Regions from separate parts of the Homo sapiens genome. Here region 2 is linked to region 1. Evidence: fine-mapped expression QTL. Tissue or cell type: whole blood. Region 1 holds a variant in brackets; the other region holds the start of a gene. All regions are shown on one strand. Distances are from middle to middle.

Evidence for each region. PIP is the estimated chance that this variant, and not a neighbour inherited with it, causes the effect.
Region 2: MAP3K2 starts here. The variant in region 1 is fine-mapped to the expression of MAP3K2 in whole blood (TOPMed, PIP 0.99).

What each region holds. Positions count from the first base shown.
Region 1 is chr2:127,294,066-127,302,170 of GRCh38, forward strand. It overlaps ERCC3 (ERCC excision repair 3, TFIIH core complex helicase subunit), which reads right to left and starts at 79. Exons shown (of 15, transcript NM_000122.2): 1 at 1-79. The coding sequence starts at 16. MAP3K2 (mitogen-activated protein kinase kinase kinase 2) reads right to left here. Exons shown (of 17, transcript NM_001371910.2): 17 at 4,603-8,105. The variant A/T (reference allele first, on the strand shown) is at 4,889.
Region 2 is chr2:127,383,783-127,391,887 of GRCh38, forward strand. It overlaps MAP3K2 (mitogen-activated protein kinase kinase kinase 2), which reads right to left and starts at 4,193. Exons shown (of 17, transcript NM_001371910.2): 1 at 3,670-4,193. MAP3K2-DT (MAP3K2 divergent transcript) reads left to right here and starts at 3,656. Exons shown (of 4, transcript NR_187129.1): 1 at 3,656-3,770; 2 at 5,099-5,216; 3 at 5,329-5,403. LOC124906074 (a long non-coding RNA gene) reads left to right here. Exons shown (of 4, transcript XR_007087227.1): 3 at 1,742-1,773; 4 at 2,298-2,379. RefSeq lists a silencer at 3,613-4,482.

The sequences.
Region 1 (8,105 bases):
GGTCTCTTTTGCCCATGGCAGCTACAGCAGCAGAGAGAAGATGACCCCGCTCCCACAGGCCCGCCGCGGCATCCGCTCTGGGGGGACTTCCGGCTCAATCCGGAAGCTCCCTGTTGTCCACACAGGATGTCCCGCCTCTAGGCGCCGTGATGTGGGTGGCTGGAAGAGCGGAGAGCCAGCGACCGCCGATCTGTTAGCTCGTGCGACCCAGCGGCGGGGGTCCTCCACTGTTCATTTCTCTACAACTGAAGGAAAATACTGTGTGTTGAGCACCTGTGTAGTGCGCGAATTAAAGGCCTCATCCTTCTGGAACTTAAATTTTAATGAAGCCATGTGGGCAATAAATGTGTGTGTGAGAGAGAGAGAGAGAGAATGTGACCTGAGTCCATGGGTAAGGAAGAATTCTTTTTTTTAATTAAAAAAAATTTGGCTGAGCACGGTGGCTCACGCCTGTAATTCCAGCACTTTGGGAGGCTGAGGTGGGTGGATCACTTGAGGTCAGGAGTTCGAGGCCAGCCTGGCCAACATGGTGAAACCCCATCTCTGCGAAAAATACAAAAAAAAGTAGCCAGGCATGGTGGCACACGCCTGTAGTCTAAGCTACTTGGGAGGCTGAGATGGGAGAATCTCTTGAACCCAGAAGGTAAAGGCTGCACTGAGCTGAGATTGCACCACTGCACTACAGCCTGGGCGACAGGCCGAGAGTTCGTCTCAAAAAAAATTTTTTTCTTTTTTTTTTTTTTTTTTTTGAGACGGAGTCTCGCCCTGTCGCCCAGGCTGGAATGCAGTGGCGCGATTTCAGCTCACTGCAAGCTCCGCCTCCCGGGTTCATGCCATTCTCATGTCTCAGCCTAAATAAAGCAGATTACCCTCAATAATGCGGGTGGGCCTCATCCAAATCAGTTGAAGGCCTTAAGAGCAAAGACAGGTTTCTCAAGGAAAAAGGAATTCTGCCTCCAGACTGCAACACAGAAAGTTCTGACTGAGTTTCCAGCCTTTGGACTCAAAACTACAACATCAACTCGTACCTGAATTCCCAACTTGCCAACCCCCACAATTGCATGAGCCAATTCTTTAAAATCAATCAATCAATCTCGCTTGCTCAGTGGGCCTCTTGGTTCTGTTTCTCTGGAGAACGTAACACAGATTTTTGGTACGGGGAATAGGGTACTGCTGTAACAAATACCTAACAATGGGGAAGTGGTTTTCAAATTGGGTAATCGGTAGAGGCTGAAAGAATTTTGAGGCGCATGATAGAAAAGCCTCTATTGTCTTGAAGAGCCTTGGTAGAAGTATGGGCATTAAAGGTGATTCTGGTGACGGCTCAGATGGAAAGGAGAAATATGTTATTGAAACTGGAGGCAAGTGGTAGAGAGCTTGCCTGAATTGTATTCTGTTGGGTGGAAAGTAGAACTTATAAGTGATAAGCTTGGACATTTTGCTGAGGAAATTTCTACATGATGGTTCAAAGTGAGGCCTGGGCCAGGCGCGGTGGCTCACGCCTGTAATCCCAGCACTTTGGGAGGCCGAGGCAGGGGATCATAAGGTCAGGAGTTCAATACCAGCCTGGCCAATATGGTGAATCCCCGTCTCTACTAAAAATACAAAAATTAGCTGGGCGTGGTGTCGCGCGCCTGTAGTCTCAGCTGCTCAGGAGGCTGAGGCAGGAGGATCTCTTGAACTCAGGAGGCAGAAGTTGCAGTGAGCAGAGATCACGCCACTGCACTCCAGCCTGGGCAACAGAGCAAGACTCCGTCTCAAAAAAAAAAAAAAAAAAAACTGAGGCCTGCTTTCTCCTTATTGCTTATAGTGAAATGTGAGAAGAGATACACTGAAGGTGGAATTATTCAACAAAAAGGAACCAGAACTTGAAGATTTGGATCATTCTTATACTCACATTGTAAAAAAAAAAAAAAAAAAAAAAAAAAAAAAAAAAAAGAGAGAGAGAAAGTATGCTCTGGAGAAACACTAAGGATGTGGACAACCATTTATTTGCAAGAGATTAGGTGTGTGGCTTATAGACCCAATCACCCATCTCCACAGAAACCTGGACAGTTTTGACTAGGGTACATAGATGGGATGAAATGAAGGAAGGCTGTTGGACTCCCAGGATTCCACAGGTAGGAAAGGGATTGGCAGGGGCAGTTCAGAGGCCAGTGAGGCTGCTTCCGCCACCACAGGACTGAAAGGGACAGGCTTGGGTTTGAACCCACGGCCACCACCTCCTCAGTTCTGAGGGTGCGGGGCTGCAACCCCAGTGGGCCCTGAGGACAGAGGATCAAGCCAGTGAGGATTATTCTCAAGCCTTAAAATCCTGTCATTGGCCCTGTTAGGTGTCAGACTTTCTTGGCACCTCCAAGTCTTTTTCCTTCCCATTTCTCCCTTTTGGAATGGAATGTGTCTATCCTCTGCCTATACCATTGTAATTGGAAGCAGATAACTTGTCTGTTCTCATGGGTTCATAGATAGAAAGAAAATTTGCTCCAACAGGAAACCTAACCCAGAGTCAATTGATGTGGATGATTTGGGTGATGAGATTTGAACTGATATTTAGATGATACTGGACTTTGAGTTGATGCTAGAATGACTGACTTTTGTTGATGTTGAGATGGGGTGAATGTACTTTGCATGTGGGAAGGATATGAACTTGTAGGGGCCAGAGGACAGACTATGGGTTGAATTGTGTCCCCCACCCCTCAAAAAGTTATTTTTTTTGAGACGGGGTCTTGCTGTTGCCGAGACTGGAGTGCAGTGGTGCGATCTGGGCTCACTGCAGCCTCAACCTCCTGGGCTCAAGTGATCCTCCCTCCTCAGCCTCCCAAGTAGCTGAGATTACAGGCATGCCACCATGCCTGGCTTTTTGTATTTTTTTGTACAGACGGGGTTTCACCATGTTGCCCAGGCTGGTCTTGAACTGCTGGACTTAAGTTGTCCATCGCCTTGGCCCCCCAAGTGCTGGGATTACAGGCATGAGCCACTGTGCCTGACCCAAAAAGATATTTTGAAGTCCTAACCCCTACTACCTCAGAGTATGGCCTTATTTGGAAACAGGGTCTTTATAGAGGTAATCAAGTTAAAATTAGGTCATTAGGGTGGGCCTAATCCAGTAACTGGTCTCCTTATAAAAAGGGGAGCACACACACTTGTGTCAATAGACACACAAAAAGCACCACGTGCTGATGGAAGCAGAGATCGGATTTATGCTGCCACAAACCAAGGGATGCTATCAGAAGTTGGAAGAGGCAGCTGGACACAACGCCATGGAGCACATGTAGTCCCAGCTACTTGGGAGGCTGAGGTGGGAGCCCAGAAGTATGAGGCCAACCTGGGCAACATAGTGAGACCCAATTTCTAATATATAAAAATAAGTTGGAAGAGGCAAGGAAAGATTCCCTTATGGGTGTCAGAAGGAGCATGGTCCTGCCCACACCTTGATTTCTGACTTCTAGCCTCCGTAACTGTGAGACAATAAATTTTTTATTATAAGCCACCTAATGTGTGGTACTTTGTTACAATAGCCCCTATTGTTGGACATTTAGAGTTTTAAGTTTGGGCTTTTATAGATACAACTTAAAACATTCACAATCTATTTCCACAGGTTAATTCCTAGGTATAAATTGGTGGGTCAGAGGATATACAAGGTTCTGAAATTTAAGACAGGGTCTCGTTCTGTCATGAAGACTGCAGTGCAGTGGTGCAATCTCAGCTCACTGCAACCTCTGTCTCCCAGGCTGAAGCGACCCACCCACCTCAGCCTCCTGGGTAGCTGGGACCACAGGCATGCACCACCACACGTGGCTGATTTTTGTATTATTTGTAGAAACAGGGTTTTACCATGTTGCCCAGGCTGGTCTCAAACTCCTGAGTTCAAGTGGTCCACCCACCTCGGCCTCCCAAAGTGCTGGGATCACCATGCCCGGCCAATTCTGAGGTTTCTGATTCTGATTCTGAGGTTTCAATTCTGAGGTTGTGTTAAGTTGCCCTCTATACCAAAGTATTAAATTATCTCCGCCAGGCGCAGTGGCTCACGCCTGTAATCCCAGCACTTTGGGAGGCCGAGGCGGATGGATCACGAGGTCAGGAGATCAAGACCATCCTGGCTAATATGGTGAAACCCTGTCTCCACTAAAAATACAAATAAAATTAGCTGGGCATGGTGGCAGGTGCCTGTAGTCCCAGCTACTCAGGATACCGAGGCAGGAGAATGGCCTGAACGCGGGAGGCAGAGCTTGCAGTGAGCCGAGATCATGCCACTGCACTCCAGCCTGGGCGACAGAGCAAGACTCTGTCTCAAAATAAATAAATAAATAAATAAATAATCTCCAGCACCATGTGAGAGACCATTCCTTATACTCAGTAGGTTTGATAGTAGGGTTTGTGTTTGTTTTTAATCATTAGTTCTGATTTAGGTAATCAAGATGTCCAGCCAAAGATATACTACAAGTTGGGTGGAACATTATAGACTTAGATACTGGAAAGATTTGGTTTAGTTTCATTGTTTTTAGATTTGTCTGCGCTTGGTTTCCTAGAGAGTGCTCAACTCAAGCAAGGAGGGAATAACTGTAAATAAAATGTGTCCAAGAATAGATTTGGAAAAACCAATCACAGTGGAAATAAATATTAGCTTTATTAACACTCAAAGTGCCATTCATTTATATTCATTCCATAGTCCAGAAGGTTACTTATTAGAGTAAGCCTTTGCACCACAATCTTTCAAAAAAATGAACATGTAAGAAAAAGCAGTTTTCATTGTGCTAATTATTGCAGGCCTTCATGCACGTAAACCTCAACAAAATGTGTGCCAACAATATACAAATTTCCATATAAACAAAGTCATTGATCACTAACAAAATATAAACATGGTTTCTTTTATATTAGATTTTTTTTT[A/T]AAAAAAAGCTATTTACCAGCAAGAAAAAACAAGTACCTAGAAATTATAAAACTCAGAAATTGTATACATTTTTACAAGCACAATTTTGAATGACAAACAAAATCAAAATGTGCATGAAATGTTGCACGTACCACACTGTATCTGGCTTCTGGTAGGTTTTCCTAATCACACTGGTTCCTTTTAACATAATAAGCTTAGTGACATTCAACTTCAACAGTGGACTTTATTCCTAACACGAGTAATTTTACATGGTACCGCATATTTAAAACAAAGTTTTCTTTAATACTACATTGTCTGATTGGAAATTTCATTTCCAATTCTTTTTCTGCCAGTTACTTAAAACACACAGTACAATATAAAGACACACAACGTATGTTTGGACATTTCAAAACCAATTTATAGTCAATTACAAAGAATCACAATATGCCAATATATTGTTTTATAAACCCAGTCTGACCTTGCCCAGTGATAGAAAAACTAAAAGTTGAAATCTTTTGGGGTGGAATACAGGAAATATTCAAAGACAACAGTAGGACAGGCCAATAGCAACTGGAGATAGAAAAATCTTGACATCTCGAGACAATTTAGTTTCTCACATTTTTCCATAGCTCTGAGAATTCAAAGGCCATTTTTAGCGGTGTGTTTTTGCTACTGCTTAAAACCTATTTTTCCCTTAATTTGCATTTCACGGAATTCTCAAAGAGAATTTAATGCTTTTTCTTGCAAGAGTATTTTAATTGAGCTCTAAGTATGACTTGCATTCAATTCTGAAAATACAAATACATTTTGAATGGCTAAAAACAAAATTTTAAAAATACTTTTGATCAGCCAGCTGAAAATATATTCATATAGTAAATAATCTCTCAGAAAGCTTTTATATATATTTAATTATCACAACTAAACAGTACCCTTATAAAACAAGTTCATAAAAATGTAGAAATGAAATGAAAATAAGAACTTACTGGGATATATACATGTGCCTACAGACAGAAAAAAACATCTCCACACAAACATACATCCCCTGATACACAGTTAAAAGCATACTTTCAACTTAGTAATGGATTTTATAATACATTATAAAATTTTCTAATTTCTATTAATGTCGAACTCCTGAGTTCTTCAACAAAGAACCATAGATAAGTATAGTTTGTAAAAGCAAAAAGGTCCATTTAAGTCAGTAATAGCAGTGCAGTAACTGATGGCTACATCTTGAAAGAAGTTAAAACATAAAGACACAGACAGTAGTTCAATGCACGCATTCATGATGCTCATACACTCATCAACAATTATTGGTCAGAGTAGTAAATCAGTGTACAAATTAAACATTTCCAAAAATGTGCAAAAATGTCAATCTTAATAGGAAAAAAACCCTTTGTACATAATTATAAACTGCCCAGCATTCAACTGAGATTAAAAACATTTAGAGAGAAACCAATAGGTTAAATATAGAGAATTTAATGGCTACATTTAAAAATGTACATTATTATGTCAAAGGGTAAATTTACAAATTGATAATCATAGTTTGCAACAATTCAAAGTTTATTCTCAAATTTATCCAAGTTTACTTTTATTTACAATGAATAAAAAGAACCATGTGAAATGTAAGAGATGTCAGACATTAAAAGTATTTTTGGTATTAACTCTTATAATATTTCAGAATTCAGGGTAGCAAATTTTAAAACCAATAACAATAGAAAAAATGTAAACCATTTACTAATTAAGATTGCATTAAAACAATTGTTGGTCTTTAAAGAAGTATTCTTATCCTTAGACACTGTACTTTCAATTGAATAGGGTGTATTGCAAGAATTTGGCCCACTTCATATTGCCCATAAGCCTCTCCAGCTCAAATGTTTCAACTAGTCCTCTCTTCTTATTCCAGGTGGAAAAAATTCTTTGGAAAAGTAAGAATACATCAAATCCATTTTGTAGTCTATCTAATAGAGTTTAAGGTGTAATTTTGTTTCTTCTCCCCTCCAAGTAAAGCTAATGCTAAAATCATCACTAGTTACATATGCTTTTAAAAAATAAATTCTAAAAAAATATTTAAAAAGAAGTGAACTTAAAAGTGCTTTTCGGTATGGTCATGAACTTTACTGTTCTCAACTGCATTAAGGGATTCTCAACTGCATTAAGGGATTCAGAAATTATTTGGGGACAAGTCCTGTACATATAGTAGAAGCAGATACTTCCTTATGTTCCAAAATGTCTATGGCACAAAGCAGACATCAGTCCAGAACCTACTTTTCCTCACAGCTTTGCTGAAATGCCCCTCAAGTCAAACATAAGTTCATAAATGTTAAGACACTAGGAAGAAAGTTCGCCATCAACCTGAGGCATCAGACGTTAATGTCTGTCTATGTGAATCAGTGGTCAAGTGACATTAACAAGATTGGCACATGTACAAGCTTAAATTCATGTCTACATAGTTCCTCAATAGTGGAAGTAACTTCTGGATGTCTAAATGCACTGATCACCTGTCCTTTTCCTTGAAGGATATACCAGAATACAAATTCTACTAGTATCTGCTTTATAATTTTTATACTATTAGCTTACAAGTGGACAGAAGTAACAGTGCTAATTATTTTGGCTATGTGTACAGGGAATATAAAAGCTTTGGTTTAAAGTGATTCTGATAATACAGATTGTGTTACAAACAAGAAGTCATCAGGCAGAAGGAACAATGGTACTGATTTAATGCCTTTGCTGTTATTAACAAAAATACCATATGACTATCAATTAAAATGCACAATTATGAAAAATAAGAATTCTATGAGACTGTATACAGGCAACAGATAAAATCTATTCTTTTCTTTACTGTAGCTATGACTCCTCCCTCATCTTTCTGAAGCTCAACCTTGAATGCTTACAGGACCACTGAAAAAAGAATCTCTAGGCTCCCCCAAGAGCTCATTTCCATCAACAGCTCTGGAAGGTGAGTATGGGAAGATGGGAGGCCCTGATACTTCCCACACCTACCATGGCATCCTGTCCAAACCATGGCAGAAGTCAAAGCCAAGCCAAAGACAACTATAAGTAGGAATAGCTGCTTCACAGCATGCTTCCCCTAGCCAACCAAAAAGAGGTACAAGAGAATTTCCTTGTGAATACTTGGTAAGCTAAGGAAGCTTATTTTGATAATGTTTGGCAGAATTTCAGTTCCAAAAAGTTCAGGAAGAACTATGTAAAATCAATTACTTTCTATTTAAGAATTAT
Region 2 (8,105 bases), 90 kb after region 1:
GCTAACTCTAAAAATAGAAATAAAAATAAAAAAATTAGGCTAGCCTGAGCCAGGCTCAGATGTTCTTCTAGCATTTTTTTGGCAACAAATAATTTTTTTTTTTTTTTTTGAGATGGAGTCTCGCTCTGTCACCCAGACTGGAGTGCAGTGGCGCCATCTCTGCTCACCGCAAGCTCCACCTCCCGGGTTCACGCCATTCTCCTGCCTCAGCCTCCCGAGTAGCTGGGACTACAGGCACCCGCCACCATGCCCGGCTAGTGGTTTTTTTTGTTTGTTTGTTTGTTTTGTATTTTTAGTAAAGACGGGGTTTCATCCTGTTAGCCAGGATGGTCTTGATCTCCTGACCTCGTGATCTGCCCGCCTCGGCCTCCCAAAGTGCTGGGATTACAGGCGTGAGCCACCGTGCCCGGCCAACAAATAATTTTTAATTGATATATATATATATATATATATTGCTTTTTTAGAATGTCATTGCACACTTAACAGACTACAGTATATTGTAAACATAACTTTATACGCACTGTGAAACTAAAAAAAGAAAAACAAACGAAATACATTTTGTAAGGCTATAACTACCATAGACAGTGATCAGATTCTTCTGACAGATCTGAGCAAAGTAAATTGAAAACCTTCTGGAAAGGATTCATCATTCTAGATGCCATTAAGAACACTGATGATTCATGGGAGGAGGTCAAAATATCAACATTAACAGGAATTTGGAAGAAGCTGATTCCAGCCCTCATGGATGACTTTGAGGGGTTTAAGACTTCAGTGGAGGAAGTAACTGTAGATGTGACGGAAAGAGCAAGAGAACTACAATTAGAAGCAGAGCTAAAACTTGAACAGATGAAAAGTTGCTTCTTATGGATGAGGAAACAAAGTGGCCTTTTTTTTTTTTTAAGACAGGGTCTTGCTCTGTTGCCCAGGCTGGTCTGCACTGCCACAGCTCACTGCAGCCCTGACCTCCCCTCCCCGGCTCAAGCACTCTCCCTGCTTCAGCTTCCCAAATCACCACAACCGGCTAACCTCTATATTTTTTTAATGGGATTTTGCCATGTTGCCCACGCTGTTCTTGAATTCCTTGGCGCAAGCAATCCTCCTGCCTCAGCCTCCCAAACTGCTGGGATTATAAGCGTGACCCCATTACGCCTGGACAGAAAGTGGCTTCTTGAGATGGAATCTACTCCTAGTGAAGATGATGTGAATATTATTGAAGTAGCAACAAAGGACTTAGATTACAAAAACTTAGTTGATAAAGCAACGATAAGCAACTTAGATGATAGGTGATAAGCAATTAGTTGATGAAGGGTTTGAAAGGACTGACTCCAATTTTGAAAAATGTTCTATGGTGAGTAAAATGTTATCAAACAGTATCACATGCCAGAGTGAAATCTTTCCTGAAAGGAAGAGTCCATCGATGCGGCAAACTTCACTAATGTCTTACTTTAAGAAATTGCCTCAGCCATCCCAAACTTCAACAACCACCCCTTATCAACCATCCTTACTAGTCAGCAGCCATCAACATGGAGGCAAGACCCTCCACCAGCAAAAAGATTACAATTCCCTAAAGGCTCAAATTTCTTTAGAAATTTTTAGCAATAAATAATTTTTTAATTAAGGTATATACTTTTTTTAGACATAATGCCATTGCACACAATAGACTACAGTATATTGTAAACATAACTATATGCACCGTGAAACTAAAAAGTTTATGTGACTCACTTCTTTTCCTTTATTGCAGTGGTCTGGAACCAAAGCCACAATCTCTCTAAGGTATGCCTGTACATGTACCTATAGATAAAGCAAATATGGCAAGATAACAACAAATGTTTAATCTAGAGGGTCAAGATACAAGTGGTTTACTATTACCAAATTTTCTGTATGCTTGAAATTGTTTGATAATAAAAAGTGGGAGGTGGGGGGAAATAGCTCCAATTCTATAGGGAAAGAGAAAATCAACCTGAAACCAACGCTGTAGGAAATGCAGAGTATCAAACATGACTTTATTTTAATACAGCACCTGTTAGTTTAACCCTTTGGTACCAATAAAGTAAACTAGAAACAAAAGCTCCCCCTAAAACATTGCTTATAAGACTCAGTCTCTAATGCAATCCAATTATTTAAGATAAGCCTTTAACAGCTAGTTTCTCAAAAGAGGCACATGGATAACCATTCTATAATGATATCATATACAACATAATTCAATAAGATTCAACATGTTTATATTTTAACCAAACAACAAATCAATCTGTAAACCATCCACATGTTAACTTTGTAATTTCACCTTTTCTCCACAGAGACTGCAAGACCACAAATTTTCTTCAACTTGATAATATACTAGGAAAATTACAGAGTAATATAACTGGGCATCAATAGATTTGTTAAACATTTGCAATTATGCATAGAGCTTCAATTACTCAAAGGAAATGTATCGACTTTTTTTCAGTACAGAGCTCTGGCTCCTTATTTTTTCCTCTCACCATAGTTTTAAAAAATACAAAACTCATGCTAAAATGAGAATTTTCAGTTAACTTATAAACACTGACTAGTAGCACTCCATACAAATGAAAAAGAATCACACCATCAAACTTCCTACGATATTCTACGCATTAAAATTTGACATCGAACTAAAAAAGATTGCATAAGACAACGAACAAATCACTAAATTGCCACATAATCCAGCAACAAATTTTGCAACAAGGAAATCTCAAGCAAATAACCCAACTGTGAGTTCCCTTTGGGCATCAAGGTCAAACTACAAAAGTAAATTTGTGACTTTTCAAGATCTATGCAGTTTTACCAAATGTATTTATTTTTTGTGAGAGAATAATTTTTTTCTGTCCAGTACTAGTACATAAAAAGTAAAGGTATCTGAAGCCATCTTTTAAATTTTTTTTAAAGCCAAGAAAATGATTTGGCAAAAGATATCGAAGAGCTTACGTTAGGGAAAACTAAACTGTATCTGTCTATGTGTTTAGAATTTATCCCATTAAAGAAACTGCCCAGTTAGTCTCATTTTCTAAACGTATTTATTTTTTGCAAGACGAGAAATACAGTCTTACAAAAAGACATCTGCATATTCGAACCAAGCCTTCCTGGATTACTACCTTCATGACCTTGGACAAATGCCTTAATCTCTCTGAGCCTCAAGTTTTCACCTGCAAAATGGGGCAATTTACCCACCTCATTGAGCTGGGAAGATGAAGAGAGATAATGCATGACAACTGCCGGGCGCAGACTAAGAGCACCCTAAGTGCTACCTAAATATTCCGTAAAGAGAAAAGGGGGAAACAACCTTACATCAAAAGATTACCACACTGTGACAGTGCAAAGACAAGCACTTTTTCGCTTACTGCATGTACCATTTCTGCTTCATCCCAAGACCAGATGCAACCTTTCTTCTAAAATCTCTGCAGGGTACGTGTCTGACAGCTAACACAGCCCAGCAGCCTACTTCGCGCTGACCTGGGCTTTAGGACTGGATGCAGGGGGCCCAAGGTCCGCCCTCCCGCAGCTAGGCAATCACCCAGCGAAATCTCCGCCCCTGGAGCGGCGCTTAGGCCGCCGCCAGCCCCCCTCCCGGCGCCCAGCCCGCGGCCCCCGACACACACGCGCGCACACACACACACACACACACACAAGCGCGCGCGCACGCACACACGCACGTACCGGCTGCTCCGCAGGGACGTAGAGAGCCGCAGGCCCAAGGAGGGGCCGCCCCCGCCGAGCCCGCCCCTCCGCCCCAGCGCGGCCTGTCACCGCGGCCCCAGGTCGGGGGCTGCCGCAGGGCCCCCGGGGACCGGAGGGGCGCGCGAGGAGTCGGGCGCGGGCCTTGGGGCCAGGCCCGTCCCTCTTTCACATGAAGCCCGGGCCGGGCGGGGTGGCGGGCGCGTGAATCCTCGCAGCCGGCCGGGTCCTCCTGGCGCTCCTCGGCACTTCTAGCCGCTGCAACCCCGAGGCCCGCGGGAACTGGGCAGGAAAGGAGGAAGCCGCGGGCCCGCGTCGCTAGAGACCGGAGAAGAGGCGGGAGTGGCGACTCTGCGGACAGGGGCGCCGAGCGTCCTGGTCGTTGTTTTCGTCGCCGCCGCGGGCCGTGCAACCCCCGAACGCTGCGCCCAGCGGCCGCGGCACCCTCGTCAGGCGCCGCCGCTGAGGGCAGGCAGCCCGGCAGCCACTACACACGGACCCGTGACGTCGGGCGTAGCGCGGCGCACGTCACGGCCGCTCGCTCGTGCGCGCGCACCCCTCCGCCCGGCGGTAGCGGAACCCGCCGCGGGCGCGCGCCCGGCCCAGGGGAGTGGGTCGGCGCCTGCGCAGAGGCCCGCCACGCCCACACACAGGCCACCGCCCCCACCGGCCGGACGGCGCGGGGATTCCCAGTCCTGGCTCCGCCCCGGCCTCGGCCCCGCCCCCGCCCCTGCCCCGGGGCAGCCTGTGCTGTTCCGTGTGCGCGGCGCATACGCACCTGGGTTGTCTCGAGCCTGCGGTAGTGGCCAGATCCCAGACATCCGAGTAGATCCCGTGAAAAGGTCTCCCACGTGGGCTGTGGACAGGGCCCAAGGGTAGCAGAGCTAGCAGAGGCAGTGACGGACTGTGTGGCAGGTCATTTGCAAGGAGAAAAGCCGTCTGCCTCTTAATTTGTGGCTCAAGTTTCAGAATTTTTTTCCTGAGGGACTTTAGAAATTACTTCAGGCTTGCCACCTAACCTTAAACCACCCCCTTGGAGACTGGCTAAGTGTTATTTGTGTTTTCTGTTTAGTTCTTATCACCATCGATACTTGGTTATGACTGGTTGTGTACATTGGTTAGCCCAGCAAGTATTACTTCTCCAGCTTAACAGATGTGGAAACTTAAGCCCAGAGACATGAGTTGACACCCCACCCCCAAAGCTAGAGTCTAAAACCCTTTCTTTCGCTCCTCATCTCCCACAGGATAAAATGCAAATTAATCAGACTAGTGGTGAGGCCCTCCGTGGTGTGACTAACCTGCATCCCGACGTTTTCACCCTACTTTGATCCAGAAAGCACCTTTCCGCCCCATCTCTTCTCCTTTCCTTAAATACCCCTTACAACTTCCTGTACCATTCTTCCCTGTTCAGCTTCTTCTTGGTTTCTTCGTACATTCTGGATCCACCCCTTTCATGCATATTCCAGACCACATTTCCACTGGAGCAGTTGAAATGAGAGAGATGGGAATGGGACTCACCCGAACCAGAGGTAAGGAGCTACCCAACTTGGGCTCTGAGGGTCAAGGGAGCTGGCACTTGTGGGGCAGAGACTGAGGGAGAAACTGTTGTGTAATGTCAAAATATCTCTGGGTTTCTTCCAGGAATTTTTATTACAGACCCATTAACAGAGGTGTCAAAGTCACAGGAACAAGGATGTGCACCTCAGAAACACAGAGGTCAGTGGAAAATCAGTTTGCTTCTATTTGTTTAAAAAATGGGGGACTTATGCATAAATCTAAGACCTTCTTGAATCTAACATTCTAAGACCTGTATGCCACAGAAAGGAGGGTCTCAGAACGCCGGAGGATAGTATTTAAATCTTAAATATCTATATTGTTCTCCACAGTTACTGGGTCACCACATAGCAGGCATTCAATAAAAACGTGTTTGTTTACTAAGTAATCTAGAGATAAATTTTTTCCCCTCATAGTGCTGCTCATTTCTCCACTCCCTTCCCTCACTTACCACCCCGGGGACTTCATTCACCTCTGGGTTCCTCAGAAACATCCCGTGGGTATAGTTATAGTAGCTATTCTTTCTTTTTCGCCATTCTCCTTTTATATTGGTGACTTTTCCTCTTGCTTAGATATTAAATCTCTGACATCTTTGGTTATTTTAGTATATATGATTACAAATTAGTGATATTGGGATTTTTTTATTGATGAAACCATCATTCAATGAATATTTTTTTGCCTTCCTACTCTGTGCCTGGGATTGCAGTGATAAAATTATATAGTCCCCACTGCCCAGGAACTCAGAATCCTGTGAGGAAGGCAGACAGGTAAATGGATAATGATAACACACTGTGACCTGCATCATGGGAGGGATGTGTATCAGGCACCACAGCAGCAAGAGGAAGATGTCACAGGTGTGTCTGGGGAAGTGAGAGATGACTTCAGAGAGGAAATGTGGCATGTTCCTTTTCTGTTGCTGCATAACAAACTGCCACAAACTTAGTGACTTAAAACAGTGTCTGTTTTTTAGCTCCCAGTTATACAGATCAGAAGTTTGCACAGGGGCAAGGCTGAGTTCTCTACTCAGGGTATATTGCAAGGCTGAAATCAAGGTATCAGCTGGGCTGACTTTTTATCTAGAGGCCCTTGCAAAGATCTTCCAAGCTCATTCTTCTTTGGGGCACAATTCAGTTTCCTGTGGTTGTAGGATTGACATCCCTATTTCCTGGGCCTGCCTTCAGTTCCTAGAGGTCACCTGCATTCCTTGCCACATGACCCCTTCCATCTTGAAAGCCAGCGACAGAGACCTTCTTGCGTGCCAAACATCCTCCTACATCAGATCTCTCTCTAACTTCCTCTTTTGCTACCAGCCAGAGAAAACTCTCTGCTTTTATTTTTATTTATTTTTTTATTTTTGAGACAGAGTCTCACTCTGTCGCCCAGGATGGAGTGCAATGGCGCAATCTCGGCTCACTACAACCTCCGCCTCCCAGGTTCAAGTGATTCTCCTGCCTCAGCCTCCTGAGTAGCTGGGATTACAGGCACCCACCCCCACGCCCAGCTAAGTTTTGTATTTTTAGTAGAGACAGGTTTTCACCATGTTGGTCAGGCTGGTCTCGGACCCCTGACCTCGTGATTTGCCCACCTTAGCCTCCCAAAGTGCTGGGATTACAGGCATGAGCCACTGCACCCGGCTTTTAGAGAGTTCATATGATTAGATCAGGCCCACTGAGATAATCTATTCTTAACATCAACAGTGTCACATAACATAACCTGATCATAGGAGTATAATCCATTATATTCACAGTACTGAGGGTTATGCAGGCTATGTACACCAGCCGTCAGGGATCTGCAGGGACATCTTAGAATCTTGCTGGCCACATATTGTGCCATGGCTGGCAACTGAAACTTGAACGGGGGTAGTTATTTGCTGGAAGAAATAAGGATGGAGGAGTACGCATTCCAGGCAGAGGGAATCAAGTGTGTCCAAGCTTGGAAGTATGAGGGAACGTGCCCTGCCTAGGAATGGCAAGAGTTGCTGGCCACTGGGTGTTGAGAGAAATGCAGGCAGGGGGTGAAGCTAGAGAAGGAAGAGAGCTGCCAGGAGATTGGGAAGGAGGAATATTAGAGCAGGCCAAATTGCTGGGAAGGGAGATGAAAGTCTAAAGGTCTAAACCACAGCTGTGGCCATGAAAATGATACGAGTACTATTGGTTGGGATGCATTCAACTGCAGCGAGCAAGACACCTGGCCCAAAACAGCTTAAACAGTGAGGTTGATTTTGTCACATAACAAAAATCCAGTGGATGGATCCAAGGTTGGTTAGGGCTGTGAACAGGCATATTGAGAATCAATGGACGGCCACCTCAGCTCCAAACATGACCTCCCACACAGTAAAGAAGGGGGAACCATCCCTCTGTTTCTTTCCCTCATTCTTTTTTAAAATAAACTTTTTATTTTAGAATGTTGACGAAAGAGTCAAACTCTATAAAATATTTGAAGAGATTTGTTCTGAGCCAAGTATGAGTGACCATGGCCTGTGATACAGCCCTCAGGAGATCATGAGAACATGTGCCCAAGGTGGCCAGATTACAGCTTGGTTTTATACATTTTAGGGAGACATGAAGCATCAAGCAATACATGTAAAGTGTACATTGGTTCAGAAAGTCAGGACAACTGGAAGTGGGGGCTTCCAACTCATAGATGGATTCAAAGATTTTCTGATTGGCAATTGGTTGAAAGAGTTACTATCAATAGAAGATAATTTCTGGGTTACCGTAAGGGGTTATGGAGACCAAGGTTTTATCATGTGGATGAAGCCTCCAGATAGCAGGCTTCAGAGACAATAGATTGTACATGTTTCTTATTGAACTTAAAGAGTCTGTTCTGTCAGAAATTCCAAAAGGGAAGAGGGTAGAATGAGG